Regions from separate parts of the Homo sapiens genome. Here region 1 is linked to region 2. Evidence: fine-mapped expression QTL. A gene starts in region 2. The other region holds a variant in brackets. All regions are shown on one strand. Distances are from middle to middle. Region 1 overlaps TRERF1 (transcriptional regulating factor 1). Region 2 holds the start of TRERF1 (transcriptional regulating factor 1).

Evidence for each region.
Region 1: its variant is fine-mapped to the expression of TRERF1 in whole blood (INTERVAL, PIP 0.97).

What each region holds. Positions count from the first base shown.
Region 1 is chr6:42,310,238-42,325,475 of GRCh38, reverse strand. All of the region lies in intron 3 of TRERF1 (transcriptional regulating factor 1), which reads left to right. Among named protein-coding and RNA genes, the nearest start is that of MRPS10, 100 kb to the right of the region's middle. RefSeq lists enhancers at 8,737-8,826, 9,417-9,476, 9,545-10,212. The variant A/C (reference allele first, on the strand shown) is at 8,609.
Region 2 is chr6:42,445,499-42,460,736 of GRCh38, reverse strand. TRERF1 (transcriptional regulating factor 1) reads left to right here and starts at 8,811. Exons shown (of 18, transcript NM_001395490.1): 1 at 8,811-9,063; 2 at 9,476-9,560. LOC124900214 (arf-GAP with GTPase, ANK repeat and PH domain-containing protein 2-like) reads right to left here and starts at 8,377. Exons shown (of 4, transcript XM_047419627.1): 1 at 6,455-8,377; 2 at 5,822-5,957; 3 at 4,583-4,792; 4 at 3,553-4,001. The coding sequence starts at 7,916. The coding sequence ends at 6,819. LOC107986596 (a long non-coding RNA gene) reads right to left here and starts at 8,377. Exons shown (of 5, transcript NR_171668.1): 1 at 8,112-8,377; 2 at 6,455-6,520; 3 at 5,822-5,957; 4 at 4,583-4,792; 5 at 3,553-4,001. RefSeq lists silencers at 7,357-7,796, 8,267-8,346.

The DNA.
Region 1 (15,238 bases), 140 kb after region 2:
GAATGCTGCAGTGAACATATGAGTTGCATATGTCTTTTGGTGGAATGATTTATTTTCTTTTGGGTATATATCCAGTAATAGGATTGCTGAGTTGAATGGTAGTTATATTTTTAGTTCTTTGAGAAGTCTCCAAACTGCTTTCCATGGTGGCTGAACTAATTTACACTCCCATCAACAGTATATAAGCATTCCCTTTTCCCCACAGCCGCGCTAACATCTGTTATTTTTTGACTTTTTAATAATAGCCATTTGGACTGGTGTCGGATGGTATCTCATTATAGCTTTGATTTGCATTTCTGTGATGATTAGCGATGTTGAGCATTTTTTTCATATGCTTTTTGGCCACTTGTATGTCTTCCTTTGAGAAGTGTCTGTTCATGGCCTTTGCCCACTTTTTAGTGGGGTTATTTGTTTTTTTTCTTGTTGATTTATTTAAGTTCCTTATAGATTCTGGATATTAGACCTTTGTCAGATGCAGAGTTTGCAAACATTTTCTCCCATTCTGTAGGTTGTCTGTTCACTCTGTTGATAGTTTCTTTTGTTGTGCAGAAGCTCCTTAGTTTAATTAGGCCCTACTTGTCAATTTTCATTTTTCTTGCAATTGCTCTTGAGGGCTTAGTCATAAATTCTTTTCCAAGGCTGACGTCCAGATGACTATTTCCTAGGTTTTCTTCTAGGATTTTTATAGTTTTAGGTCTTACATTTAAGTCTTTAATCCATCTTGAGTTAATTTTTGTATATAGTGATAAATAGGGGTCCAGTTTTAATCTTCTGCATATGGTTAGCTAGTTTTCTGAGCACTATTTATTGAATAGGGAGTTCTTTCCCCATTGTTATTTTTGTCGACTTTGTTGAAGATCAGTTGGTTGTAGGTGTGTGGCTTTATTTCTGGGTTTTCTCTTCTCTTCCATTGATCTATGTATCTGTTTTTGTACCAGTACCACATTGTTTTGGTTACTATAGCCTTGTAGTATAGTTTGAAGTAAGGTAATGTGATGCCTTCAGCTTTGTTCTTTTTGCTTAGGATTGCTTTGGCTATTTGGGCTTATTTTGGTTCCATATGAATTTTACAATAGTTTTTTCAAATTCTGTGAAAAATGATGTTGGCCATTTGATAAGAATAGCATTGAGTCTATAGATTGCTTTAGGCAGTATGGACATTTTAATGATATTGATTCTTCTGATTCAAGAGCATGGAATGTTTTTTCATTTGTTTGTGTCATCTATAATTTTGTTCAGCAATGTTTTGTAGTTCTTGTAGAGATATTTCACCTCCTTTGTTAGATGTATTCCTGGGTATTTGGGTGGGTGGACTGTTGTAAACGGGATTGCATTCTTGATTTGGCTCTTTCTGGGCACTAATTATGGAACAGACCCTGTGCTAGGCTGTGGGAATACCAAGATTAGCAAGTCTCCCACTTTATGTCTCTACCTTCTCTTTGATGTTGGTTCAACAAATGCCAAGCACATCCCATCCATGTAATGTCCCTGTTGCCTCAAACATGTCACTTGATCAGAAAACTTTGGCAACAATCTGTTCTGAAATAAAGTTCCAACTCCTGAGCCTGGCATTTAGATCTCCCCCATTGCACTACCCTGGCCTGGCAAACAGCCCATCTCTCACTCCTCCTGTGGCCAGGTAGACCTGCTCGCTGTCCCTAAACATGTCTCACTGGCTGCCTCCTCCTGTCTAATTCCACTCAACCTTCGGGGCCAACCAATGCTTACCTGCTTAGGAAAACCTGCTAAGACATGTTGCCTCCTGGTTTTGGGGCTTGGAGGCACCTATTATTGCACTTTTTCACTGGGTGCTTATCATGCTACCTTGTACCCTGGTCTTTCTCCATGGTTGTCTCACCTTCCCTATTGTCAAATTGCTGGGATTATTGCTTCATAGGTATCTTTCCTCTCTCCCATGATAGAATGCAGGGCTGACCTATGGAAGTTATCCATCAGTATCCCTAATGAAAACTGGGGGAGGCCAGGCGCGGTGGCTCACACCTGTAATCCCAGCACTTTGGGAGGCCGAGGCAGGTGGATCACGAGGTCAGGAGTTTGAGACCAGCCTGGCCAATATGGTTAAACCCCGTCTCTACTAAAAATACAAAAATTAGCCGGGCGTGGTGGTGCATGCCTGTAATCCCAGCTACTTGGGAGACTGAGGCAGAAGAATCGTTTGAACCCAGGAGGCAGAGGTTGCAGTGAGCCGAGATCACACCACTGCACTCCAGCCTGGGCGACAGAGCGAGACTCCATCTCAAAAGGAAAAAAAAAAAAAAAACTGGGGGAAAGTTGCACCTCCTTTATCAACTCTTCCTGACAGTTCCTTAGTTCTGCTGCTGAACTAGAGGAGGTCAGTATTTACCACTCTTAGACAAATACATGTTTTGTTGAATCCATTTTTTTTTTTCATTCAGATAGGCAATGGAGAGGGCAGGATAATGGAGAGTGTGAGAATAGGTGCTAGTTATCCTCTGCTTGCCCCCCACCCCCTCCCAGTGCCATTCTCTGCCCTGCTGTGGCCTGGGAGACCAACCTCAGTGGATTGTGTCAACTAGGCTCCTTTACTTTACCTTCCAGGTGTGGTTGGGTTTGGCCAGTAGGAGGCACCAGTAGGAGATCCAAGAATAGGCAGAAAGCAGGGAGCGTTAATCCCCCTGCTTCCTCTCAGCCTCATCAGTTTTCTGGCAACGGCTATCTTTTACAGCTACAGCTCCAGTCCTCCAGATGCATTGGGCTACAGTAACACTGTTCTGCCTTCTTGCCCTTCATACTTAGTCTCATACTTAGTCTCTGCATGCTGCACCATATATTGCTGGTTGCCTTAATCCTCCCCACACCTCTATAACTTGTTCATTTATTAAATTATTTTTATTTAAACTCTTTTGATCGTTCTCTATAGTATCTGAGAGTCAAGCTTAGCAGGCTTAGTTATCTGTCCCAATATACAACCCCACGAATTGATCTGTGTTATTTTCTTGAAAAGGGCATTTTGCTTTATTTGGGGCAGGGGGTTTGCATTCGGAGGAATTTATAATAAAAATTAGTCTCCTGGCCCCTTCCCTTCCTAACCCAGACCTACTGCTTGGAGGCACTTTTAACTCAATTTTATTTTATTTTAGTTTAGTTTATGGCATTTACCTCCATATTTTCAATAATGTGCTTTAATTTTACTCCTATTTTAGAAATTACTTGTTGACTTTCTGTTATGATAGATAACAACTTAACTCCCTTATACCATCCCTCTACCTCTCCTCCCCACATCCTCACAACAAAGTTGTATTATTATTTATAGTTCCTCTGCTTAGTTACCTTTATAAGTAAGATTCTTACTATCATATTTCTTGTTTCTTAACAACAGTACTTCCTGAGTCCCGGTGCAGTAAAATGGCAGTATTTGCGTTCTTACCTAATTTGCCTTCTACTTTCCAACTTCTGTCATCTCTGCTTTTACTTTTACATTGTTAAGATTGAAAACATTTACATTTTTATTTTGTAGCTGCCATTCAGTCTTTTATGCTTTATCTACAGGTTGATCTTAAAGGCTGAAAAACTAGCAGATAGGGCTTATGCTATTGTGATTGCATAAATGACAAGTTGCACATTGACAATCCACCATTGGACATACTTGTTTGATTTGCCTAGTGATTTTTTTTTAGGCTTACAGCCAACATTTAAAAATTGGTAGAGTTTTTTTTATAAAAGATTTAGAGTTTGGGGTTTTGTTTTAAAAATTGGAAGTTCTGGCACATATGGTCTGACTTCCCACATATAGTAACACTCTGCTGGAGTCTGTCCCCTTTAGAATAGGCATTCCTACTCTAGTTTGCCACAGTTCCTACCACTCGCAGTATATGCAAGTGTTCCAATACCTGACTTGCTCATTTATTTACTTACTTGCATGACGCTGAAGGCATTTAAGTGTGTGACCCTGATGCTTGATGTGTTATTCTCTTTGGAGCCAAGTAATATACTATGGATACTTTCTTTTACAGCTTTAATTTTTCCAAGACTTTCTCATTGCCTTTTTTTTAAAAACTTTGCTGTTATTATATCCTCATTTTTTTTCTCTCAAACTCTCTAGCCAGTTGGGTATTTTATATATCCCTTTCTCCCAGGGTCCTCTATTCTTCTCAAATTTGATTTCATTCTAGGTCTGCTACAGAGCTGTCACCTGAGATTTCCTCTACTACTTTACTAGATTGGTTCTACTGCTTCCTGGATCTCAAATGTTTTTTTCAGGGTGGGGTTTAGGGGGGTCTCAGGGTTGGGGCTGGTTAGTTCAGTTTCTCCAGAGAAGAAAATGCCTTTTTTTTTTTTTTTGGCTTGGAAGAATAGATAACCTGGCTGCCTCATGAGCCACCTATGAAGGGTGCAAATCTTCTGACTTCAGATTTTATAAAATTCCCCCCTTTTCAGCCTCCTATCTGATTCCTGCCCTCCGTTGTTCTGGCGTCTCTGAGTCATGAGCCTGTGGCCATTTTGCCAGGCTAATGGAATCTCATAATATTTGAGCGCTGGAGCTCAGGCTTCCTGTGCTTGCATCATCAGTTTCTAATCTTCCATATTCTGTCTGTTTTCCACAAAGTTGTCCCAATCTCTGTCCTGGGTAGCCCTCACCTGTTCCCTTTATTGTTGAAGTTATGCCTTTTAAAAAAAATTATTAGGCCAGGTGCGGTGGCTTACGCATGTAATTCCAGCACTTTGGGAGGCCGAGGCAGGTGGATCACCTGAGGTCAGGAGTTTAAGACAGCCTCGCCAACATGGCGAAATCCCATCTCTACTAAAAAATACAAAAATTAGCCGGACGTTGTGGCGGGCGCCTGTAATCCTTGCTACTCAGGAGGCTGAGGTAGGGAGAATTGCTTGAACCTGGGAGGAGGAGGAGGTAGCAGTGAGCCAAGATCATGCCACTGCACTCCAGCCTGGGCAAAAGAGCGAGACTCAGTCTCAAAAAAAAAAAAAAAAATTCTTTCACTTTTGTTTTGGTAGTGATGTGTTCAAATGGAGAGGGTATAAATGAATACAGTTAACGTATTCGTCTTTAATAGGTTGTGCTCAGAATTGATCTCAACCCTTCTTGAATCTGTTTAAATTGTTGTCCTATGTCAATGTAAGAGCCAATAGGCTAAACGCTCCACCACCTAAAGTAGGAACTTTTAATCCTAAATTTACCCCTTTAGGATTTAGGAAACCTGTCCTAAACCCTAAAGGAGTATATTTAGGATTAAAAGTTTGATTGAATAGACATATAATAATATAATATAATTTAGTTATGGCTGGGTGCGGTGGCTCATGCCTGTAATCCCAGTACTTTGGGAGGCCGCCAGGTGGATCATTTGAGGTCAGGAGTTCGAGGCCAGCCTGGCCAACATGGTGAAACCCCATCTCTACTAAAATACAAAAATTAGCTGGGCATAGTGATGGGTGTCTGTAATCCCAGCTATTCGGGAGGCTGAAGCAGAAGAATTGCTTGAACCCAGGAGGCAGAGGTTGCAGTGAGCTGAGATCACACCACTGCACTCCAGCCTGGGAGACAAAGTGAGACTCCATCTCAAAACAAAAACAAACAAAAAATAATAATGATATAATGTATTTAATATAATATATAGCATTATATTATTATATGTCTATTGAATGCACCATTTTTTTTTTTTTTTTTTGAAACACAGTCTCACTCTGTCACCCAGGCTGGAGTGCAGTGGCACAATCATGGCCTTGACCTCCCAGGCTCAAGCAATCCTTCCACCTCAGCCTCCCAGGTAGCTGGGACCACAGGCACACACCATCACACCCAGTTAATTTTTACATTTTTTTGTAGACATGGGGTTTCCCTATGTTGTTCAGCCTAGTTTCGAACTCCTGGGCTCAAGTGATCCTCCTGCCTCAGCCCCCCAAAATGCTGGGATCACAGGCATGAGCCAGTGTGCCAGGCTCATACTTTTTTTAACAATCAAATTAAAAGCTTGTATTGGTTAGGGCAACATTAGCTGCTGTAATCATCTCCCACATTTCAGGAGTTTAACATGAAGGAAGTTTATTTCTTGCCCTTGTAACAGTCAATGCAAGTGTTTCTGGTTGTAACTGGCTTTCCTCTACAAGGTAATTTAGGGATCTACATGCCTTGCCTCTGTCACTCTGCTATACTCTGGAGCATGCATCTTTAATGGGGGCAGTATCATGCCCAAGGGGGCAAAGATCTTGGAGGCTGAAAAATCTTACATTTTGATGCATAAATCACAAACATCTACATGGTACATAAACAGATATAGAGTATATCTGTGGTGTGAAAATGTCATGGAGGAAAGTAATTAGGGAAAAAAAATGTCTAAAAAGTCCCCTTAGGAGGGCAACAATGAAGAAAAGGTGGAGAAACACTGCCACAGGCCTATGAGGACTCTTCATTCAGGTGGAAGGGAAACAGAAGATGGAGAAGGCTCACCTGCTTCTTAACCACCTTGGCCCAAAAGCGATACAAGTTACTTGGCCCACATTTCATTGGAGAGAACTGGTCAGGGAGTTCCACCTTGCTGCAGGAGGAGATGGGAAATGTAGTCTCTGGCTGGCCACACTTCAGAGTACTTCTAAGTGAGGACTCTTAGCCAAAGAAGGGAGAGCATCTATTTTGGAGGATGGTTGGCCTCCCAATACAGGAATCAAACAATGTTGTCTTCAAGGACCAGGTACTACATATTTTGGGCTTGCAGCCATGGTCTCTATTGCAGCTACTGAACTCTGCTTGTTGCAGCTGAAAGCAGCCATAGATAATACTGAAATGAATGGGTGTGGCTATGTTCTAATAAAGCTTTATTTACATAAACAGGCAGCGGATTGGCCTTCAGGCTGTAGTTGTCCAGCCCCTGAGTATCCATTCTGGAGCCTTTCAGTTGTCCACATTACCTCTGCTTCTTGGGACCTAACCCACATTTCCTTTACTTCCAGTGCCTAACTAGAGCCTGGAGCTTCCTCTTAACTGAATGAAGGGTTCGTCTTGGCTGTTTCACTGAAAACAGTGGAATATGACCCTCCACCAAGTGAAGTGTAGAGATCCCAAGACTGTAGAAAAGAAAGAAATTTTGTCTATGTCAGTCCAATGTTAGCCCTCCCCACAGCCACCCTACATGGTAGGGGTAGAGTGCCTGGCACTCATTATTAAGTGCTCAGAAATTTCCTGTATTCAGTGTTGGGGGCTGGTTTAAAACTACTTGTATTCAGCGAAATAAGACCTTGGAGAATATGGACCTCTATTTCTTGTAGCGTTAGAGTGGATTATTATTCAATGGTTAAAACTAGTATTTACAAAGAGCTTTTTTTTTTTTTTGGAGACAGAGTCTCGCCCTGTTACTCAGACTAGAGTGTAGTGGGGTGATCTCGGCTTACTACAACCTCCACCTCCCAAGTTCAAGCGATTCTCCTGCCTCAGCCTCCCAAGTAGCTGGGATTACAGGCGCCTGCCACCACGCCCAGCTAATTTTTGTATTTTTAGTAGAGACGGGGTTTTGCCATGTTGGCCAGGCTGGTCTTGAACTCCTAACCTCAGGTGATCCGCCTGCCTCGGCCTCCTGAAGTGCTGGGATTACAGGTGTGAGCCACCGTGCCTAGCCTAGAACTTTTAACAACATGACAAAATGCTTATTTTATAAGCAGGATTCAAAATTATGTATACAATATAATCTCAACTATATCTTAAAAAGTTTAGCAAAAAAAAAAATAATTCTCAACAAGTGATGGAGTTTTTCTTCTTTTTATTTTGTATCTGTTTTCTAAAATTTTTACAGTGAACATGTTTTAGATGTGGAGAAGACTGTTATTTTAAAAATTATTGAGGTCTGGGAGCTCACGCTTGTAATCCCAGCACTTTAGGAGGCCAAGGCGGGAGGCTTGCTTGAGCCCAGGAGTTCAAGAGCAGCCTGGGCAACAAAATGAGACCCTGTCTCTATAAAAAATTTTTTAATTAGCCGGGGATAATGGTGCGCACCTGTAGTCCCAGCTTCTTGAGAGGTTGAGGTGGGAGGATTGCTTGAGCCTGGGAGGTTGAGGCTGCAGCAAGCCATGATCATGCCACTGCACTCCAGCCTGGGCAACAGAGCAAGACTCTGTCTCAAAACAAACAAACAAACAAACAAAAACTACTGAGGAGGAAATTAGTGCTGAGTGAGGGTATAATTACCCAACAGGTTCTTCCTTCCTCCTGCACAGACAAAACCAATTCACTGAGACCACAGTATTGTAGTAGACAAACAGTTTAAGGCAGAGCCAGCCAAGCAGAAAGACTGGAGTTATTACTCAAATTGGTCTCCCAGAGAACTCAGAGGCTAGGGTGTTCTACGGATAATTTTGTGGACAGGGGAATGGGAGCTGCTGATTGGTGAAGGTTGAAATCGTAGGGGTGTGGAAAATGGTCCTTGTGTGCTGAGTCAGCCTCTACATTAGGGGGCCACAGGACAGGTTGTCATGAGTCCCAGGTCCAGGTAGAGTCAGATGGTTGCCAGAATGCAAAAGTCTGAAAAGCATCTCAAAAGACCCATCTTAAGTTCTACAATAGTGATGTTATCTATAGGAGCAATTGGGGAAGTCACAAATCTTGTGACCTCTGGCCACATGACTC[A/C]TGAGTAGCAAGGGATTATAAAAAGGCAAGCTGGGGGCGGTGGAGGGGAATGGCTGGTTATCCTTTAGCTACACCTACATGTTAGCAGAATTCAGGCCCCTCCCATAATCCTAATCTTGTGGCCTTTCATTACCAAGACAAAGGCGATTTTGGTCCCTGAGCAAGGAGGGGGTTCGTTTCAGGGAGGGACTGTTATCATCCTTGCTTCAAAGTTAAAACAATAAACTAAATTCCTCCCATGGTTAGCTTGGTCTACACCCAGGAATGAGGGAGGACAGCTGGCTTGTGAGGCTAGAGGCAAGATGGAGTCAGCCATGCTAGACTCCTGTCACTGTCATAATCTTTGCAAAGGTGGTTTCAAGAGTATTAATGAAGGTGTCTGCCTGCTTGTGCACACATAAGCAGGCACCTGAAAATGCCATCCAAAATTTTGTTAGAACAAAGTCACTATGAGGCAGTCCCCTTCATCTGTCCTCCCCAAGTTAGAAAAGCTTCTTTGGATAGTGACCAGGAAGGGTTCTGACCTGCCTCTACATTGAGGCATTTTTCTCATTTCTTAGTAATGAGACCCTCACCTAGATTTTCTTTCCACTGAGGCAGACCAGCCTCTCTGGATGAATCATCAAGATTAGCAATGCGGGGAGGAGGAGGTGCATGCTTGGGGTTAACTGCGTGCCAGAGTCATTGGTCATCACAGCCACTTCCCCAGACCCATGGACTTTCTTGACTTTGGCGGAGAAATTAAATAACTTGTGACTCGAAATGTCATTTGTGTAGACCCATTAGCCAGGCAGCCTGACGTCCAGGTGCCCCCACCCCCAGTGGAGCAGAGAACAACTCATTCTGCAGGAAGAACCAAATCTGAGATCATCCCAAAACAGCCTCTTATTTTTTAGGCCTCCCTTGGGTCCTCATGTGCATCTTCCAGGTACCGTGAGGGTAGGTGTGGGGGTCCTCTCCCCTGAAAGGAGAGCACCCCCACCCAAGTCCCTCCTCTTCAGCCTCTGCCTGTGTTTCTGCTGGTGATGTCCTTCTTGAGCCTTGAGCTGTCTGCACACTGGTCCCAACCTGTGCCTTCCACACTGCTCAGACTTGCAGCGTTCTCCAGCCCTCAGACACTTCACTATGACGTTAGGGGGTGGCAGTGGGTGGGGGGGGGGGTGGTGTTCCTCTCCCCAACCCTGACCCAGGGGCCCCACCTGGTCTCTTGAAGGATATCAGCTGCTAGAAGACAGCCCGATGGCCCCCCTTCATTTGACCTCCTTTGTCTCTACTCCAGGAGCTCCCTCTTAGCTCCAAGTTAGGTTAGGGTGACCTCGTCACAGCCTCTTTGCCTCTACCCCTGCTTCTGTGCTCTAAGCGCCGATCCTAGCGCCCTTCTCTTTCATCCCAATGTGCCATACTCTAGACCTGGATGTGCCACGTGTAAGGATCACACTCCAGCAGGCACGAGGCATTAGAAAGTCCTTGGCATGTGCTTCTGTGAGCACCCAGACTTCTTACTGTGACTTGTGAGGCCCTGCACCAGGGTTTGTCAACCTTAGTGCTATTGACATTTGGAGCTAGTGAATTCTGTCTTGAAAGGGACTGTCCTGCACATTGTAAGATGTTTAGCAGCATCTCTGCCCACCAGGTGCCAATAGCACTTCCCTAGTCGTGACACAGAAATGTTTCTAGACACTGCCAAATGTCCTCTGGAAGGCAAAATCACTCCAGGTGGAGACCACTACCCTACATAATGGAGACCCCGTCCTACCACGCTGCCTCATCCCACCCACTGCACACCTGCCACATGCACGCTCATCCCTGCCAGAGCCACTGCACTCGCTGTCACCACTGCTGTGAACGTTCTCTCCTCACATCTTCATGCTTTGCTCATTTAGGTCTCAGCTCAACTGACACCTCCTTACCTTGGCCTTTCCTAAGCACCCTATGCGACCAACCTATTCGCTCCATCAAGTTTATACTTCTGTTTTGTTTTAAAATCACGTTTAGAATCTCTGACCTTGTTCCTACTGCTTTCCTCCTGGTTTTCACTGTCCCAGCCACACCCTTCTAATTCCTCAGTCACATCCGGCATGTACCCACCACAGGGCTCTTGCTGTTCCTCCTCCTAGAATGCTCTTTCCCCAGATCTCATTGTTCTTATTCCTTCAGGCATTTGCTCAGATGTCACCTTCTCAGAGAGGGCTTCCCTGACTATTTCCTACTTTGTTTTTTCCCATAGCATCTACAGCCATCTAATACACTATACACTTTAATTATAATAATTTTTATTTTCTGTTTCTCCCTATTAAAATGAAATCTCCATGAGGGCAGGGAGTTTTGTCTTCTTTGTTCACTGTTGCGTGCCAGTCACGGAGAACAATGCCTAGCATTGAGGCACTCGGCCAGTATTTTTTTAGATGCATGAGCTTAATTTTGCAAGGCTTGCTGGGACCTCTGCCCTAGTTTAACTGTGCACATTTGAAAGCATCGGGTGAGCTTGGCTTCTTGTTGTAAAACCAGGGATTTATGTTGATGAAGAGTTCGATCAGGGTAGACTCATACTCTAAAGCATGTTTTCTTGTGAATAGAGATGTTTACAAAGCACAAAGCAGTGAATTTGCTAATAGTTCTTTTTACTGGCATCAGCTAGGGTTCTGAATTTAGCTGAAGCTTATACTTACCATGCCATGGTGGAGGTTTTCATTTCCTAATATGTACATGCATTTGTCTAAAAGTAATTAGTTTGTCTTCAGTTATGAGCCACAAGAGGTCAGGACCACCACTATGGCACCTCTCCAGAAAGGGGCGTGCCTGATAAGCACAAAAAAAAAACCCTTTAGGGCCGCACCTCCAGCTGTTCCCTGTTTCCCAGGATCTTGTTTATTTCTCATCTCTCCCGGCTTCCGGTCTCATTCCTTTGCTTTTTCTCTTAATAGGCTCTCATCCTTGTCTCAAAATCCCTGTCCTTACCTCCATGATCCATAAAGACCATGGCTCTCAGAAGGCAACGTAGAAGTGAGTCTGCAGCACCTCCCCGCTTGGAGCCCAGGAAGTCCTGAATATGACCAGGAGAGTTCCTGAGGCCCACATATCCTAACATGTTGAAATCCAAGGTCTTTCAAGGAAGCCCCACCACATATGCCTTCAGAGACCTGGCCAACCCTGCCAGCCTCCCCAATAGGTTCTCCCTCATATGGTCACATTGCCAGAAATCCCACTCCTGGGGCTCAGTGAAGGCCCTTGGGTCTTCAAGGGAATTCCTTGTTCTGGGGCCCACATCCCAGGAGAGTGCACAACTTGAGCACGTTTGCATCCCGGTAAGCGTTACTGGGAAGGCTCAGATTTACAGGTGACAGATGGAGAGGGACTCTTGGGAGAGTTAGGATGTTGCAGAGAAGACCCCTTTTCCAGCTTATGTAATCGCTCCAAGGAAAGAGAGAGAAACAGAGAGAGAGAGATGAGGCTTAGCAATTGAGTTCCTGGCTGCTTGTCATATGAAGAAAACTGATGTGAACGACACTTTCCTCCTCTGCTTCCTGCCCTGCTTTTTTGTTCTTTGTATCGTGAATAATATGAATACAGGAGCTTCATACTTAGAGTTATTTTTACAAGGTCTCCTCTCTGCTTCAGATGACTCAGAGCCGGAGCCTTCTCTTGAAGACGTTCCTTGGGAAGCACCAGAGAGATGCCGAACCCCAGGCGATCTCAGGGTCACAAGTGGGTGTCCTGGAAGTGTGGGCTGGAAGGAAAGCCTTATTGAAGGCAAAACTTCTGCTGGTTCCCCTCTCTACACAGCCAGCCCTGCCTTTCTCTCACCATCTTTTCCTGCTTCAGCAGAAACAATCAGGCCTGCTTCCCAGTCTGGAAATGAGCAGAGGGCACTGCCCCAGGGTCGAGGCTGCAAGCTATGGGTAGATGAGGGGAATCTGTAGGCCCCAAAAGGCTGGTGGCTCTAGTCTGAAGGCAAGAAAACTATTTGGGCAACCAGGCACTGAAGGAGAAGGAACATTGGTAGAACCTATTTCGTGTCTGTCTCCCACTCTGCCCTTGTGTTCCTGGAGAGTGGGGGCTGCCTCTGACTGTTCTTCCAAACACCACACCCGGCACTAAGACCCAGTGCATGTGTGTGGAGTCGATGAATTAATGAAAGGGAAGCCCCTTTCCATGGGTAAAGCCAAATTACCTGGATGTGAGTACAGCACAAATCCATATGCCCGTGGAGGATGGAGCATCTGTATCTGCTCCCGAAGGTGCAGATGCCCAGACCTCGGCACACCCAGCGCCAGCATTGTCTGCTTTGACCCATCATAACCACTCTGAGAGGCCAAGGAGGTTGTTTCCATTTTACAGAGGGGAATGCCGAGGATCAGAGAGATTGGCTGACATGCCTGTTGTGCGTTTTGTAAGCGGCACAGGGGGATTCTTCTGCCCCACTTCTACTGACTCCGTGATCCAGTGCTGCCTTGAATCTTCGGAAACTCTAAAGTAGGGGCTCCCCGCTTCTGAGAAAGACTCCGTAGCTCTCTTTTGGACACAGCTGCAGTGCCATCCTTCTGGGAGAGCCAGCCTGGAGCAGAACAGCTGGGGCTCATCTATCTGCTGCCCAACAAACCTTGGAAGGAGTATGATAGGAAGGTTCCATTCAGACTGCTCTTCTCTGGTGGCTCTGGGGAAAAGGGCATGATGAGGGGAGATGCCCTTTTTTCCTCCTGTTAATCTGCCCTCATCCCTGACTCCCTTTCCTGCTGTCTTCTATCCAACCACACAGTACCCAGCTTAAAACCAAGGTGGATGGAAAAGGTTTCAAGTTGATCATGGAACTCAGAATGCATTTTTCTGTAGAAGTAGCTGGAATGCGATGCCTGGTCTCCCCATGATATGTCTGAAATAAAAGAGTAATAGCATTGGCCCAATAGATAATTTGTATTAATGTTGATGGTTTAATTAATGAATTATTAATAAGCCAGCACCCTCTCTTACTTGGAAGACGACAACAGCTTTCTCCACTCTTGTCCTCTTGTAGTTTGTTCTCCACGTGAAAAGTGAATCAGACCCCATCTCTCCTCTGCTCACAACCCTCCATGATCTCTTTTTTTTTTTTTTTTTTTTTTTTTGAGACGGAGTCTTGCTCAGTTGCCCAGGCTGGAGTGCAGTGGCACGATCTTGGCTCACTGCAACCTCTGCCTCCCAGGTTCACGCCATTCTCCTGTCTCAGCCTCCCGAGTAGCTAGGACTACAGACGCCCGCCACAACGCCCGGCTAATTTTTTTTGTATTTTTAGTAGAGACGGGGTTTCATCATGTTAGCCAGGATGGTCTCGATCTCCTGACCTTGTGATCCACCCACCTCGGCCTCCCAAAGTGCTGGGATTACAGGAGTGAGCCACCGCGCCCGGCCCCTCCATGATCTCATGCCTACAGCCTGGCCTCCTGCCTTGCTGACCGCACCTGCCGGCTCCCTCCACCAAGTTCATTCCACCAAAGAGTGGAAGGACACAGCTGCTGTGTCCTCTGCCTGGGACTCTCTTCCTTCCCTGAGTCACCTGGTTCAGCCAGTTCATTTAGGCCTATGCCCAGATGTCACCTTTTCAGGTGACCATGAATAGGCGCCACCCATGTTCATCACTCCTCTGACCCTTACCCTGCTTTATTTCCCTTCATAACATTCATCATACCTGCCATGACATTGCACACATGCCTGCTTACTTGTATATTGTTATTCTCCTCCACTAGACTATCTGCTCCACAAAGGCAGGGACCTTTTATTTGTTTCCTGCTGTGTTTCCAACACTAGAAGAGTACCCAACATATAGTAGGTGCTCAATAAATATTTATAAATAAATAGATGAATGCACAACTGAATGAGTGATATATCTCTACACCTAACCAACAGCAGATTGTGGTTTACATGCAGAATTTATCACACATTCCAAACATCAACGCCAAAAAGGAATTTCTTCCTTGCCTTGCCCTTGGGATTGGAAATGCAGGCACTTCATTTTAGTAATGAGTTTATAGATTATTCTGGAAACCAGAACTTCTTGTTCTGCATTTTTGGCAAAAATAGACACCTGCTTTCTTGGAGAGTAGCTTCTCAGAGTTCTGAAGGCTTCTTGGGGCTTGACAAATGGTTGGGGGTGGGTACTCTTTGGCCTCCTTAGCCTCCTGCTACCAGTTCTGCTGAGACTGGCAGTGTTCTCTTGATTACACTAGAGCAGGGTTTCTCCTACTAACGTTTTAGACCAGATCGTCCTTTGCTGGGGGCTGTCCCATGCCTTCCAGGGTGTTTAGCAGCATCCGTGGCCTCTACCCATTAGATACTAGAAGAACTCCCCCAACTGTGACAACCAACAATGTCTCTGGACATTGCCAAGTATCCCTCGAGGAGTAAAATCACTCCCTGTTGAGAACTACTGCTCCACCATGTACAGAAAGCCCCACCAACAACAAAGAATTATCCAACCCACAGTGTCACAAATGCCAAGGTTGAGCTACGCTGCTCTGAGAGCCCTGTCCAATAGGACTCTGCATTGAGGGAAATGTTCTATTTGGTGCTGTCTAATATGGTAGCTACTAGCCACATGTGGCTATTGAGCATCTTAAAATGTGTAGGCCGGGGCGTGGTGGCTCATGCCTATACTCC
Region 2 (15,238 bases):
CCAGCCTTTTCTTTTCATTAGTGATGACCCTTTCAAACACCCAAGCCTCTTTTCTTGAAATTCTTAATCTCGTTTTTCCTTTAAAAATGTATAAAATCCCGTGCATGATACATGCCGAATGACTGTCCTTTAAAAATCATTACAATGTAAAGTTCTTTACTGAAATTTGTTTATTTGTATTTTATTTACTCTTAACCATGATCCTGAAATTTTTAGGTACAAGTTCTGGGCTGGATCTTCTCTGATTGCTCTTTATAGACCTACTTGCTACCTTTCTCTACTGTACCCTAGGCCCTGGAAGGCTGACCTCCATCGATTCCATCAGTGGGCTCCCATACCCTCTGGCTTCCTGTCAGGTTCAGCCGTGGGAGGCACAAACAGATCAGAGGGTAGGAAGAGAAATAATTTGGGATACGTATTTATCCACCTCCCTCTCTGCAGGCTATGAATTGGCTGTGGTTGTGTTCTTCTACTGAAGGCCACAGCTCCTTTTAGGTGGGCCTCTCTTACAGCTACACCTGTGGCCACAACTTCAGCAATCACTTTCACTCCATTGCAGATATTTTTTTTCTTGCTGTTTCTGAACTAGGAATGGTAAAGGCTCCATATTGGTTTTGGTCCTTTGGTGCTATACCACCCCTTGCTGGTTTCCCTTAATCCTGCACACACGTAATTTGTGGGGCCGGTGCAATGCAGGGTCCTTTGTTCAAAAATTACAAAGGTCGGCCGGAGTGGTTCATGCTTGTAATCCCAGCACTTCAGGAGGCCGAGGCAGGAGGACTGCTTGAGGCCAGCAGCTCAAGATGAGCCAGGGCAACATAACTAGACTCTTCCATTTCTATATACATTTTAAAAATTCCAAAGAATTTAAAGATGGGGATTGCAAAGCATTAAACTAGTGTGTGGCCCCTCTAATTTTGAGGTCTAGTTGCACAGGTTGCACACCCATGGAGCTCGGTCCTGCCTGCACTGTATTGTAAATACTACTTACCTTAAATGATCTGCAGTTATCTATTGAGAATACCACCTGTTTCCTGCCAGAATTCTTTCTGATACAAGGTCTCATGTGTTCTCTCTCCCACTTAAAAAGAATTGTGGCTCCATTAGGGAATCTGGAAAACTAGCTGTAATCTATACTCACTGTGCAATTTAAAACTTTAGTAGATTTGCATCTGCAATAGGAAATTAACTAATTCTCTCTTTTCCTCACCCTCACAGCTAAAGCCACTCATTTGGGACTAACTTGAAGCTGGGAACTATTGTGGGCCACCATAGCCCTTGCATGCCACCTACTATTGCCACAGCTGAAATGTGTGACTCCCAAGCACGCCTCCTGGGCAGGTGCAGGAAGTTTTAGGAGTTACCCAAACCAGTTGATCACTTCTAGTTTTTTGTATTGGATACAGAATCTACTAAATAGGCTAATTAAAAAATATATGGCTTAAGCTGAGAACCTTCTCATATCCTGGAACCTATTTTTCTCTCTGGCTAGAAACTTACCCTAGATAGCAATCTCTTAGTATTACTAAACAAATATCAGTTAGGCCTCTGGTCTTGAGTAAGGCCAGCTCTCTCAATACCATCCTTAACAGAATTGAGGGTTGAAGTTACTACAATAAATTATGCTGCCTTGTTGGTTTCAAATGGGAGTTCCATAAACCCTCCTGTGCCTCAATTTTCTGTTTTTGTTTTCATTGCTTTGGTTGTTGCAGATTCAAGGATGGCAAAGAAACAAGGGTTTGAGAAACACCCTACAACCCTATTGTTTCATTGCTTTCACTTGCCACTGAAAGTGAACGACTCGCCTGCCTCTGGATCACTGGGACTGCTTCAACAACTGCATGAATTATATCCATCACTCATCCCTAAAGCACACACTTGATTTGTGCTATCCCCTTCATTTGGTCCTGTTGCCTCTCTGAGACTTCATTCTGCAGCAGTGGGTAGAAAGGCAACTGAGGTGGTATTTCCCCCTCCATGCTCTTGTCTATTTTTCCATGCCTGCAGTTTGTCCAGTTTTTAAGAAGCTCTCCCAAAGCTCCACCTTTAATATAAAGGGAAGTATTTTATAGAAGGGTTCACTTATTTGAAGAGTTACCAAATATATTGTCTTATCTTTTCCCCAAAATGCACACTTTCTCTTAAAGAGGACAAACTTTCATTTCAAAACGGGGTCATATGTAAAAATCATTCCAGCTGCTTAAATCCAGAGCATGGAAAAATTACTCCAAGAACAATATACAAATGCTCACTGGGCCTAAAACGTTTCGTTTGATTATGGACTGGATACATTTCCATTCAGCTCTGATTTGTTCCTGAGATAGGCAAATAACCAGCGTAGCCTCAGAAATGATCCTTCTCTTGGGAAAGCCAGCAGCATTGTGGACAGTCTAGACAACTAGAAGGAGCCAGAGAGTTCTAGCATCTAAACTGAAAACGAGGGAAGTCAGTCACAGTTCTGGACTGGGTGGCAGAACCGTGAGCAGAGTTGAGAATTTCACCCAGTGCATCTGATTCCAAGTCTATAAATTCTTGAGGTGTCTCTGCAGTGATGCACATTTTCAGGGAAAACCAGCCCCTAACTTTAATTTGCCTGTTCCTGTCACCCAGTCCTTCTGCCATTTACCTTCATATATGCTGTCTTCTGTGGAATTAAATGCGTCCTTAACAATTACCTGTCTACCTTGCTCTTTTCAGGGCTCAGGTCTGACTTACATGCTACCCTGAATGGCTCATGGTGACAAAAAATGCCATTTCTGGATGCCTATTATGTACTAGCATTGTATTTTGTTAACTTAAAAAATGTTAGGCTGGGTGCAGTGGCTCATGCCTATAATCCCAGCACTTTGAGAGGCTGAGGTGGGAGGATCCCGTGAGCCCAGGACTTTAAGACCAGTGTGGGCAAAATCGCAAAACCCGTCTCTACAAAAGAGAAAAATTTAGCCAGGCATGGTGGTGCACACCTGCAGTCCCAGCTACTTGGGAGGCAGACGTGCAAGGATCACCTGAGCCTGGGAGGTTGAGGCCGCAGTGAACTGTGATTATGCCACTGCACTGCAGCCTGGGTGAAAGAGCAAGACTGTTTCAAAAATACATGTATGTAATTATTTATAACAGTAATAATTCAACAAGCCTCATAATTTTTAATTTTAATGCTTAAAAGGGTTATGTTTATTTTACTTTTAAATTTATTTCATTTTATTATTTTTCAACCTGATCATCTCAGACAATAAATTTATTTCAAATGTATTTGAAACATGTCAAATATTCAACAGCAGTAGGGAAACTAGTATGGAAAGTTCCATATGGGAAATGGAATAATGAATAACTTCAACAATTTTCCGTATTTCACTAATCTTGTTTCATTTATTTAGTGTTTTGATGGGGAGGGGATGGAGTATTGGAAAGCAAATCCTAGATATATTTTCACTCAAAATGCCTCATTATGTATCTGTAATAGATAAGAACTTAAAAAAAACTGCAATGCCATTATCATATCTGAAAAAGTGATTAATTTCTTAATATCAGATAGTCTACATTTTGTCTCAAAAATGTCTTTTAAAAAAATCTTATTTATTCAAATCAAATCCTCACAAGATCTAAATATTGTATTTAGTTGTTACTAACATTTTAGAATGTTATTTATTTTAGAAGTCATTTATTTACATGCATTTAACCTTTATATTAAACCAACGCAGAAGGTATGGTCCCAGCTCAGAGAGGTTAAGAAACCTTACCAAGGTCTCATTGCTGGCAGGCACCGGACACATAATTTGAATTAAATCTTCTTAACTCCAAAGCCTCCATGCCACTCCTTCTGATGCAGGCTAACAGAATTTTTCCTGTGTTGCAGAGAGGCAAAAGGGCCACTATTTAAGAGAGAGGGTCCGGGTGTGGTGGCTCATGCATGTAATCCCAGCACTTTTTGAGGCCGAGGCAGGCAAATCGCTTGAGTCCAGGAGTTCGAAACCAGTCTGGGCAAGAATGGTGGAACCTCATCTCTACAAAAAAATACAAAAATTAGCTGGGGGTAGTGGCGTACACCTGTAGTCCCAGCTACTGGGGATGCTGAGGTGGGAGGATCACTTGCGCCTGGGAGGTTGAGGCCACAGTGAGCTGACAGCTAACCCTGATTGCCTCCATAGACTGTGCCACTGCATGCCATCTGGGCTGACAAGAGTGAGACCCTGTTTAAAAAAAAAAAAAAAAAGGAAAGAAAAAGTAAAAAGAGATAGGGTTTGGATTCAGGTTGGCCTGGATGCAAATTGGTGCAAATTACATAATCTCTCTGAACTTTCATTTCTGTCTGCATCTGTAAATAAGGATAATGATGAAGATTTGGGGCAGATTAAATAAGAATATGCATGCCTAGTATTTAGCACAGTGCGTGGCACACGGAAAGCCCTCGATAAATGTTAGCAATTAATGTAGAAGAGGAAAAAGAACCACAAAGTATTTAAACATTTGCATTTGTTAGTAGCTCGAGGAAATGGTGGCTCATCATTGTTAATAGAGCCTGCTTAGGATTGAGGCTGAAGGGGGGAAGGGTGGGAGTGGGGATAGGATAGGGGAGTGGCTCTACCTGGATTGGAGAAAGGAGTTCTGGACATAAAGATTTAAATTGGTGTCCGAGGAGTTCTCACAAGGCCTCAGCTGGAAAACAGTTAAATGCATCTTCTGACCACTAACCCAGGTTGCCTCCAGAGAAGGAAAACCAAGTGGGTGGCAGACAGGGTGGGAGGGAGACTTCTTGCTGTTTATTTGAATTTGGAACCATGTGAATGCATTCAACCTATTCCAAAAGAATAAATTACATTAAAAAATGGTCTTTTGCTATGGGGATAAGTGCTGAGAATGGTAAGACTAGGATCTAATGATAATAATAATAATAATTCCATTATACTTTGTGCAGCCCTAGGAGGGCTTCAGTCATGCAGGACAGGTTTTGAACTAAGATTGGGACTTTTTCAGCCTGACTCTGATTTCAAAGATCCAAGCTAATATTTTAATTTCAGTCACCCTCCTTCTGACCCTGATTGTAGAAAGATTCCAGACCCAGCGCTCATGGACTTGGTTTATTCAACCTGTGGATTGCCTTCAAGAGTATGCATTGTTGGGAGTCAAGTCTATTGGTAAAATCAGGGATGCATTGTCTGTGCATCTGCCGGTGTTTCCCAGTCCTTTTGGTGCTCTCTTTCTCTCTCTCTCTCTCCCTCTCTCTATATATATAATTTTATTTTTTGAGACAGAGTCTTGCGCTGTCACCCAGGCTGGAGTGCAGTGGGGCAATCTGCTCACTGCAGCCTCAACCCCGTGGGCTCAAGCCATCCTCCTGCCTTAGCCTCCTCAGTAGCTGGGACTACAGGCATGCACCACTATGCCTGGCTAATTTTTTATTTTTTAATAATAAACGTGGAGAGGGTCTCTCTACATTGTCCAGGCTGGTCTCAAACTCCTCAGCTCAAGCGATCCGCCTACCTCATCCGCCCAAAGCGCTGGGATGACAGGTGTGAGCCACCCCGCCTGGCCCCATAGATATTTTTCTGATGCTTCAATCAGCTAAGACTCTGAGGATCTGATTTTCTAGAGTCCTTTGGAAGGTGGGGGGGGGGCGGGGCGGGGGAGGATACACAACCCTATTCACAAATATTAGTAACTTGCTTTAAACTCTAAGGCCTTACATAAAATAACTCATTTAAACCTCACAATAACACTATGATATGAATACTATCATTCCCATTTTACAGGCAAAGAAACTGAACCAAGCGGTTAAGTAATTTGCCTAAGGTCAGAGCCTGCAGAGCTAACCATCTGGCATTACCATCACTCTGTTGGCAATGAACAGAGCGGGCCAAGCGTGTAGGGTGTAGGGGGTCCTTTGAAGATGACAAAAGCGTCCTTGGCTGTGTAGCCGCAAATCCCAAATCCTTCCTTCTCTGCAGCTTCTGGTTTAGGAGCTGGAAAGACAGGCTGTGAATTTCCACATTGACCTGGGGCAATTAACTTAACTCTCCGAATAGGTTCCTTATCTGCCCCGGGGAGGAGTTTTAGATTAAGAGGGTGTGTGTGTGTGCTGGGAGGGAGGTGGAGGGGCTGAGTTTTCTGGGTGGTGCGGTTTTCCCAAGTCCCGTTTTGAGGTTTTGTCCTAGCCAGCTCCCGCTCAGGTCCCTGGGCGGTGACGGTGGTCAAGCTTAGCTTGGCTGTTCCTCCTCCGCTTGGAAAAAGGCCGCCACTGGGGCCAACTCCGGCCACAGCGCTGCTGCCAGGAGACCTAGGGTAGGTCTTTTCCCCTGAGGTAGAGACCTGGGTGTACCCTCAGGAAGGCATCTTGAAGTTACTGACAGTTGAGTCAAATCTTGAAGGTCCAGCAGGAGTTAGTAAGAAGAGGTGGAAGGGGAAAGGTTAGGCGCCCCCTCCTCCACCCCTTGAACAAAGAAAGCTTGACGGGGCTTACAATATCCGAGGAAGAGCTGGGCGGGTAGAGAGGTCTGTAGAGGCGAAATCACAACTTGGCTTTATTCTAAGGGCAATGGAAGAGGGTTTTGAAGGCTTTAAAATAATGTCATTAGGAGTTTTAGTCGCTTGGGAGGAATGGGTCGGAGGGGGACAGGAAGCTATCGCAGAAAGCAGCCCACTTGGAAGATGACCGAGGACTGAGGAAAGAGGGCGGGGGACATCGAGCATCTGAAGCCTTTCCCAGTCGCCGCAACACTGTGCGCTGTCCCTCGGCTTTCTTTGCTTATGTGGAAGGGCTCCATAAAGGGCTGGGCACGCGCCAAACGCTCATTAAGCGAAATAGCCCGGGTCCCCTCCTCTTTTCAGGGACTCTGTGGTCCACGTGCCCCAGAATTGGTAGGGTAGGCGGGAGGACTTTCCACTGCTGAAGATGGAGAACCGTTACCCCTCAAAAAACACAAAAACCTCGGGTGCTTTTGGCAGCAGTCTCCTCCGCTCATGACCTCATGCTTTAAGCTCCCATATAGCCTCCCTCCGCCCAATCCACACCCAGCGCCCGGGTGGGGGTGGGGTGGGGGACACTGGCGAAGGTCTGGGTAGCGGGAGGTCATTCTTCTTGCGCGACATTTTGGGGGAAGGGGCGCAATGATTTCCCCCACGGAAAAAAATGGATGGTGTAACTTTCTGTCGTGCAAAAAATACTGTCTTGCCCTCGAGACAGATGCCTCGAACCCGGCTCGAGGTGGTCTGTTTAGCTGAACTACCTTTGGTTCACGTTTCCTCTGACCAGGAAAGAAGCTTGGAAATGCAGGGGTCTCAGGCCAGGTTCCCTGACACCTGGGCCGACCACTGCCACGCCTTCTCGGGACCTGGGGGCCGTCCTGCTGTTGCCCTCCGCCCCCGCCCGCGCCGCGGAGGTTTGAACCTTCGGCTCGCCTTTCAGCCCGCGCCCTGCCCCCTGCTCGCAGCTGCTCCCGGTTTGGGTGCAGCGGTTTCCCCCGCAGAGGAGGAGGAGGAGACAGCGCGAGGGAGCGACTCCGGGCTCGGGTTTCCGCACCAATGCCGAGCAGCCCCGGGCGGCCCCCGGTGGCCGTCCCTCCTCCCCGGCACCACGTTCCACAGTCATGGCGCGCGAGGAGGGGCGAGCGCGCGCGGCGGCTGCACCCGCGCCCCCTCTCCTCCCCTCCCCTCCGCCGCCCGGCCCCTCTCCTAGGCAACCCCCCTCCCCGGCCTGCTGCGCCTGCCGCGGCAAGGGAGACCCCTCCCCAGAGAGCTGCTCTTCCAGCGCGGTCTACTGCACCCCTTCCCCGCCCCCATCGGGGCGGAGGGATGGAGACGCGCGCTTCGCGAACCTCCAGCCCCTTCTCCGGAGCCCCAGCCCTCTCCCAGCCCCACCGAGGCCAGGGTGCGGTGGGGGTAGGCGCGGACCGTCTCCTCGCAGCCCGCCTCGACCTCGGCATCTTTGCAAACACTTAGAAAAATAAACAAACCCCCTCACAAACCCCAGTCGTTAGCTTGCAAAGCGTGTTACAATAACCGGGACGGCTACGCAGGAAGCAATCCTGCACTGGTCCGGGTTTAAGGCGGCAGCTTCCCGGCCACGCTGCCTTCTCCCCGGCCTCGATTTTCCGGCCATGCCGGAGGGTCCGCTGCACCTCAGGGCTGACAGGTCCCGCTCGCGCAGGGCCGCAACTGGGCCCGTGTCCCCCGTCCCATCCTCGTCCAGAGACTCGCCAGCCTACAAAAGGTGCAACCTCACGCACACGCAAAGCGCACAAATAAAGTCAGCAGCGCACCGCCGCGAAGGCTGCGAACAATGCGCCGGGCGGCCCGCGCCCGCCGTAGCGCTGCGCCCCGGGGGAAAGGGGACGCGGGCGGGGGCCGAGGCGGACGACCAGCCGGTCGCGGCGCTGGACACCTTACTTCCTGCTTCCCCGCCCGCGGCCAGACCCAGCTCTGCGGAGGGATATCTCCCCTCCTCGGTCCCTCTCCCTCCCTTCCCCCTCCCTTCCCCCGCCCTCCCCCTCTTTTTGCTCCTGCTCCCCCCCCCCACCCCGCCTTTCTCCTTTTGCAAGAAAATAATTTGACAGTCGATTTGCTGACAAGGGAGGAATTTGCATCCTGGATTTAAAAAAAAAAAAAAGGCCGAGAGGAGCTTGGGAACGGTTGCTAGGGGTGGGTAATGGGTGAAAAAAGGGGGGTACCGGGGAGCGGATAAGGAGGGTTAAGGGAGGGGGCGAGGATGGGGAGCAATGCAAAGGTAAGGCCAGGTTACCGCGGCTCGGCCCCGAGTGGGCTGCGACCGGGGGAGGGGCGAGAGATACATATGTATTTCTGTCTCCCCAGCACACCCCCTTCCCTCTAAGCGATGGCTGAGAGGCGGTGCATGCAGATGGGGAGTAAGTTTCCTGAAGGGGAGGGTGGATGCACGCGCGCAGCCCGGCGCTGCAAATTTCCACTGGGGAGGGAGAACGGCTGGATGCGGAGAGTTTGGAGTTGCTTGCGGCGGAGGGCAGGAAGGGGAGCAGGGCTGGGAAAGGGGGCTGGCGGGCGCTATATCTGGGAGTAAGTTTCCAGCATCAGGAGAGCCTGCACGCTTGCTCACTAGTAAGTTTCTGGCCGGGGAGGGCGCATGGGGAGGAGGAGAGGGAGGGGTGCATGTATATAGAAGGGGGGAGGGGGGAGCAGATTTCCTGCGGGGAGGCTGAATGCATATGGAGAGTAGATTTCCTGAAGGGAGGGTGGAGGCGTAGACGGACCGAGTAAGTTTCTTGCTGGGGTGGTGGAGGAGGTGGTGGGTTGGTGCTTTGGAAACCCAAAGCTTCCTACCCTGGGTGGGGGAGCACACTCTTGTCGGGGGGACGAGGGGCCAGGTTCCCTGCTGGGGAGAGGGGCTTGCATCTGGGGAGTATGTTTCCTGGCGGAGCGATATTTGTTTACAGGCTGAGGGCAGTACAGTAAGTGAGTAGCGCTGAGAGAAGGCGGCTGACATAAATTAATATTGAAATTACTCCATCAGCTCTGCTCGCCCCCCATCTCACCCCCCAAGCGGATACTGGTCTTCTCGTCGGATTGCCCATGCACTTGTTGCAGAAACAGCCAAGGTAGGCAAGAAGCTTATTAAGTTTCATTTTTAAAAAATTAGTTTGGGGATGCTCCTCGAGAAGACGGGGGTGGGGCGAAGTGGGGAGGGAAGAGTGGGGAGACAGAAGGAGAAGTCTCCCCCCCCTTTACTTTCACTATGCAAGCAGGCCTTCTCCCTTCTTCCCTTCTTCCCTCTCCGGGCTGCACAGCATCCCAGCAAAGGGGGAGGGATGAGGTGGGCGCTATAATTGGCAACCCTGGCTTAAAGGTAGTGATGGTGGGCTTGCATTTGAGGTTGTGATGTTATAAAGGCTTCATTCTCCAGCTAAGAAACCGCAGGACTCTGCCTTTTGGGGTTTTTGACATGATACATATGTGTATGTATACGCGCCTGCGGGCTCTGTGGGGGCTGGGTACTCCCCAGAAGTTAGTGTGGCCACCCAGATGGGAGAAATGTGTAAGGGGGTAAACCTGTTCCTTCACTCCCCAACTTCAGTTTGGGAGACTGGGAAGTTACTGCCGGTGGTCTTAAGAAACAGATATTAAAAACCAACCAAACCACTCCTTCACCAGCGGAGGCCGAGAGCACCTGGCAGGCAGCCTCTGGCCAGCACTGGACTGGAGCATGTGCGCCTGCCATCCTTAGGTTACAAGAAAACGCTTTCTGGTTCCTCCGTGTGTCTTCTACCGGCCTGTTAGAGCCAGCTTTGTGGAAACTCTTCCCCAGACTAGACGCAGCTTTGGCAAGTGCCAGTACTGAAGGGGATGGCTTCAATTCAGCATGGCCTGGGCTGTCTTGTGAGTGCGTGGAAGTCGTGCTTAGGAATGACCGCCCCTGTAGTGGCTAAAGAGTTCATTAAAAAATATCTCCTGAAAACCGGTCCAGGTGCACTTTTCAGCAGGTCATTGAGGAGAGTTTTAAGAAGGGGAGTTTTAAGTTGTCCCAGTTAGCACCCACCTTCTGCATCACTGACCCTTTTAAGAAAGGAGTTTGGCGATAGGAAGTGTGGTGTTGATGCTCACTGACTGGAGAGGATAACAGCAGGAGTCCTCAGTGCTTAACTAGTTAACCAGCAGCCTTTGCCTCTCCTTGCCTCTGTTTTCTTGGTCCTCAGCCTACTGGTTTCTGCAGAAGAGTTGTAGGTCTTAGCTGTCAGCTACCTTGATGATGCTGGGAGTTTTAACTTTGCTAGGATAATTTTAGCATCTCGGGTCCAACCCGGAGACGTTTAGTAGGGTTAGGGAGTAGCCACTAGGCAGTGGGGTTAACTGAGGTTGGTTAAGCTTTCTGCAATTCTGTAGACAGGCTCTGTTCTAGCAGGGTCGAGAAAAATGGGTTTTAAAAAACTCGCTACACATTGCTGATGGAGAGTGCTTTTTTTCTTTCCTAACTGTCGTCAGATTTCCAGATTGAGGGTTGATATTTGGCAGTTTGAGAGTTGAGTTAGTTGGGAATTAAATATTATTGCTGCTTATCAAATGTTCCTAACTAGGCATTAGTTAAGCAAATTAGCTATTATTTTTACCTGATGAAAATCTGAGTCTGGTTGTTGTATTTGCTGGGAGGGTAAACAAAATCTTTATGTATGTTCATTCCAGGGTGGAATTATTTACATGCCTAGCCTCAGAGCCAAGAGCAGTCATTCAGGTTTTTTTCCTTATATTTATGAGATTTATTTTATTGTCTTGCTTTGGCCATTAATCAAGTCACAGTAGTTTTTTTTTTTTTTCCTCTTCTACCGAGAATGTTCTTGCGGTAATAAAGGCTTGAAGGCCCATGAATCATAATTCGTTCTTTTTAAAATATTGTGGTGATTGTCAGGATCTGATTTATAGGAATTGATACCCGGAGTGACACACCTCTCTGGGCTCCGCCCTTTTAGGCATGTCCATTTTCGCCAAAGGATTGTTTAGAAGCCAGCTTGACATCCCAAAAAGAGCATTTCCCTTCTGCTGTATGAGAAGATTAATTTTGCAGGTTCCATAGTAAACATGGGTCTTTTCACAGCTTGGTAAGCAGGCTTCCACATAGCAGGCATGTGTTATTATCACATAGCATTTATGTGAGCTTGCTGTGAAAACAGTTGTTCTATGAACTGTGTGGAAAGTACTCAGTTTTGCCTCCTATAACCGGCTTGGGCCTGTGGTTTTTGTTGAGTTAGGAACTTAAAGTGTAAAAGAGGAGACAGACTGCAGTGTTCTTTGCTGCTTGTATAATAAAATGTGTGGTCACAAAAAATAAAGCTTGTTTATGATTTTCTTTTTCTCCTTCTTTAATGGGTGGGTTGGTTATAATAACCGAAAGCGTTATTTTTTTGACAAATGTAAGGATTCTCTGTGAAGCTGATTAGCCAGGAAGTGTTAAAATTGTCTTGTGTTCAATAGTTGGCTTAAGTTTACAGTATTGGTAAAGTGACAAAGAACTTAAAGTAGTTTGATGCTCAAGGCTAGGGGAAACATCACTGGAAAGAAAGGTGGGGAAGGTACCAATTTCTAGCCATTTCTGGGCTTTGGATTTTTTATCTTAAAAGTGCGTGGTTTGATCCGTGAGTTCCCTTCCGGCTCTGAAATTCTGTGTCTTGTAAGCGAGGTCTCCAGAGGTCTTGACAGTCTCTTCCTGAGCCAACGGCCAATTGCTTCATGGACTTGGGTGAGCTGATTAACTTCTGTTTTTGTCTTCTCATGGAGAAAGTGGATTTGATCCTTGGTATTCCAGAAAGGTCTCTTGAGTGGCCTGGTGATCTTGACCATCAAACACAAGGAAATACTTATGAATAAATGTCTGCCAGTGTCTTGGACAAAAAATTCTCAATTCTATGCACTAACAGAGAGTGCAGCATGTACATATCCTAGGTACCAAAAATAATTTCTGTTCATCTTAGAAGTTTCTTCTCCAGCCAGTTGGTTAACTTGTCTAATCCTTGGTCAAGTCTAAGGTTAACCAAGCTCTTATTCCCAGGCAGCAGGAGGAGATAGCTTTGGGGAGAAACTGGAGACCAGAAAGCCCAGTGTGGCTTTGCCTGCTTTCTGTGGGTAATTGGGATTTGGCTGAATATTTGTGATAAGGTTCATAATAATGATATAGTATCATTTTTATCACCAGGATTCTCTGTATTTCACTATGGGCATTTTTGGGAGAAGCTCTTGATGTTTTTATTGACTTTGGACATTGCCATGAAAAGTAAGGATTTAGGGCTGGGCGCGGTGGCTCATGCCTGTAATCCCAGCACTTTGGGAGGCCGAGGCAGGCGGATCACCTGAGGTCAGGAGTTCAAGACCAGCCTGGCCAACATGGTGAAACCCCGTCTCTACAAAAATACAAAAATTAGCTGGGCATGATGGTGGGGGTCTGTAATCCCAGTTACTTGGGAGGATGAGGCATGAGAAGTGCTTGAACCTGGGAGGCAGAGGTTGCAGTGAGCCGAGATCATGCCATTGCACTCCAGCCTGGGTGACAGAGCGAGACTCTGTCTCAAAAAAACAAAAACAACAACAACAAAAAAGAAAAGTAAGGATCTAGGCAAGTGGCTTATACCCCAGGCGGTATAAATGGTGCTCATGGTCCTGCTCTAAAGGCGGTTGAATTCAGCTCATTTTATTTCCGACCTCATAAAACTGTGTGGCTGAGGGAGGAGGAAGGATTAAAATCATCTGGGATCTTGTGGATTAATGATATTTCTGAATTTGCATGTTGAAGGGAAACCAGTAAAATAAAGGAGAACTAACGAATAGTTGATTTCTTTTGTGGAGAGAGGAGGACAAGAACAGCTGGATTCCAGTTACTGGCGTGCGTTGCCACAAGGGTGCTGTGGGCATTTTTAAGGAATAATATAGTCTCAGTAACATGAGTTTGACCCCAGGGCTCTCTTAATAAATCTTTTCTTCTGGGCTAAAGAAAACACACAACAAAAAGCCTCTGTGATATTTTCTAAGAATTTTAAGTTCTCAGAGTAGCTGCTTGTAGTAATTTGGTTTACTGAAGAAACAGATGATTCTTGGTCTTTCATCATGGAAGACGATGAGCTGGCATGGGGTAGCATATGCTGAGCTGTTGGGGTTTGGTTTAGCAACATAAACATTTCTTTTTATATGTTTGATAGAGCAGGAAGGGGACAAAGAACCCGTGTGCCTAAATAACAGTGATAACTCTGAGCTCAAAGAACGAGGGTTTTGTTTGTTTGTTTGTTTCTTTGAGACAGCATCTTGCTCTCTCACTCAGGCTGGAGTGCTGTGGCTCAATCTCAGCTCACTGCAGCCTCTGCCTCTCGGGTCCAAGTGATCCTCCTGCCCCAGCCTCCCAGGTAGCTGGGATTACAGGCGTGCACCACCATGCCCAGCTACTTTTAATTTTATTTTAGTAGAGACAGGGTTTCACCATGTTGACCAGGCTGGTCTTGAACTCCTAGCCTCAAGTGATCCGCCCACCTTGGCCTCCCAAAGTGCTGGGATGACAGGCGTGAGGCACCACACCCGGCTGCGGAACGAGGGTTTTTTTAATGCCATAAGCAGCCCTGGTTTCTTTCATACATGCGGCAGCTTCTTATTGAGGACTTACTATTTGCCAGGCACTGTGTTAAAGCTCCAGAAATATATTGATAATTGAAAGAGACATAATCATCTCCCTCTACCCATACCCCTACCCTTACCACTTCACTTACAGTCCAGAGGCAGACATGTAAAGAAATACAGCTTGCCAATTGTGATCAGTGCTCTGATGAAACCACAAGTCCAGTGACTTGGATGGATTTCATTAGAGTAGCCTGGAAAGGCCTCTCTGAGGTTTGGGGGTTGGGGGAGACAGCACATGAAGCAGAGGAGAGCCTGTGCAGAAGGACTTTGGTTTTGGAGAACTCAAAGAGGCACAGGTGGTCAAGGATGAAGGAGGGAGGGCAGCATGAGATGATTGTGCAGGACTCTCTGGGCTTTGAAAAGGTTTACATTTCATTTGAAGTGTAGTGGGAAGCCATTGAAAGTTTGGAGTGGGACTGGGCACGGTGGCTCACACCTGTAATCCTAGCACTTCGGGAGGCCGAAGCGGGTGGATAGCCTGAGGTCAGGAGTTCCAGACCAGCCTGGCCAAAATGGTGAAACACTGTCTTTACTAAAAATACAAAAATTAGGCTGCGTGGTGGCGGATGCCTGTGATCCCAGCTACTTGGGAGGCTGAGGCAGGAGAATCACTTGAGCCCAGGAGGTGAAGGTTGCAGTGAGTGGAGATCGTGCCACTGCACTCCAGCCTGGGTGACAGAGCGAGACTTCATCTCAAAAACAACAACAACAAAACAAACAAACAAAAGAAAGTTTGGAGTGGGAAGCGACAGCCCCTAATTCACGTTTTAAGAAGATTGCATTGGTGGAGAAGAGAGCAGAGAAAGGCAGAGCACAGTAAAGAGGCAGGTGGAGGAGGAGGCGAAGGAGGTGCATGGAGAGGAGTGGGTGGGTGTGAGATGCTCATTAGGAGTAGAATGGGCAGGGCTGCTGTGGGGTGGGGAGAAGCATCTAGAACTCCGAGGTTTCTGGCTTGTGCAGTTGAGTAGATGGTGGTGCTGTTTCCTGAGATGAAGAAAGATTGGGAGAGGGAGGCGGGCAGAATCAAGATATTTTAGTTGGGGCACCACTAAGTTTGAGGTGCCTATTAGACTCAAAGTGGAGATGTCAAGTAGGGTAATCTGATCTACCACCTAGCACGAGATAAAAA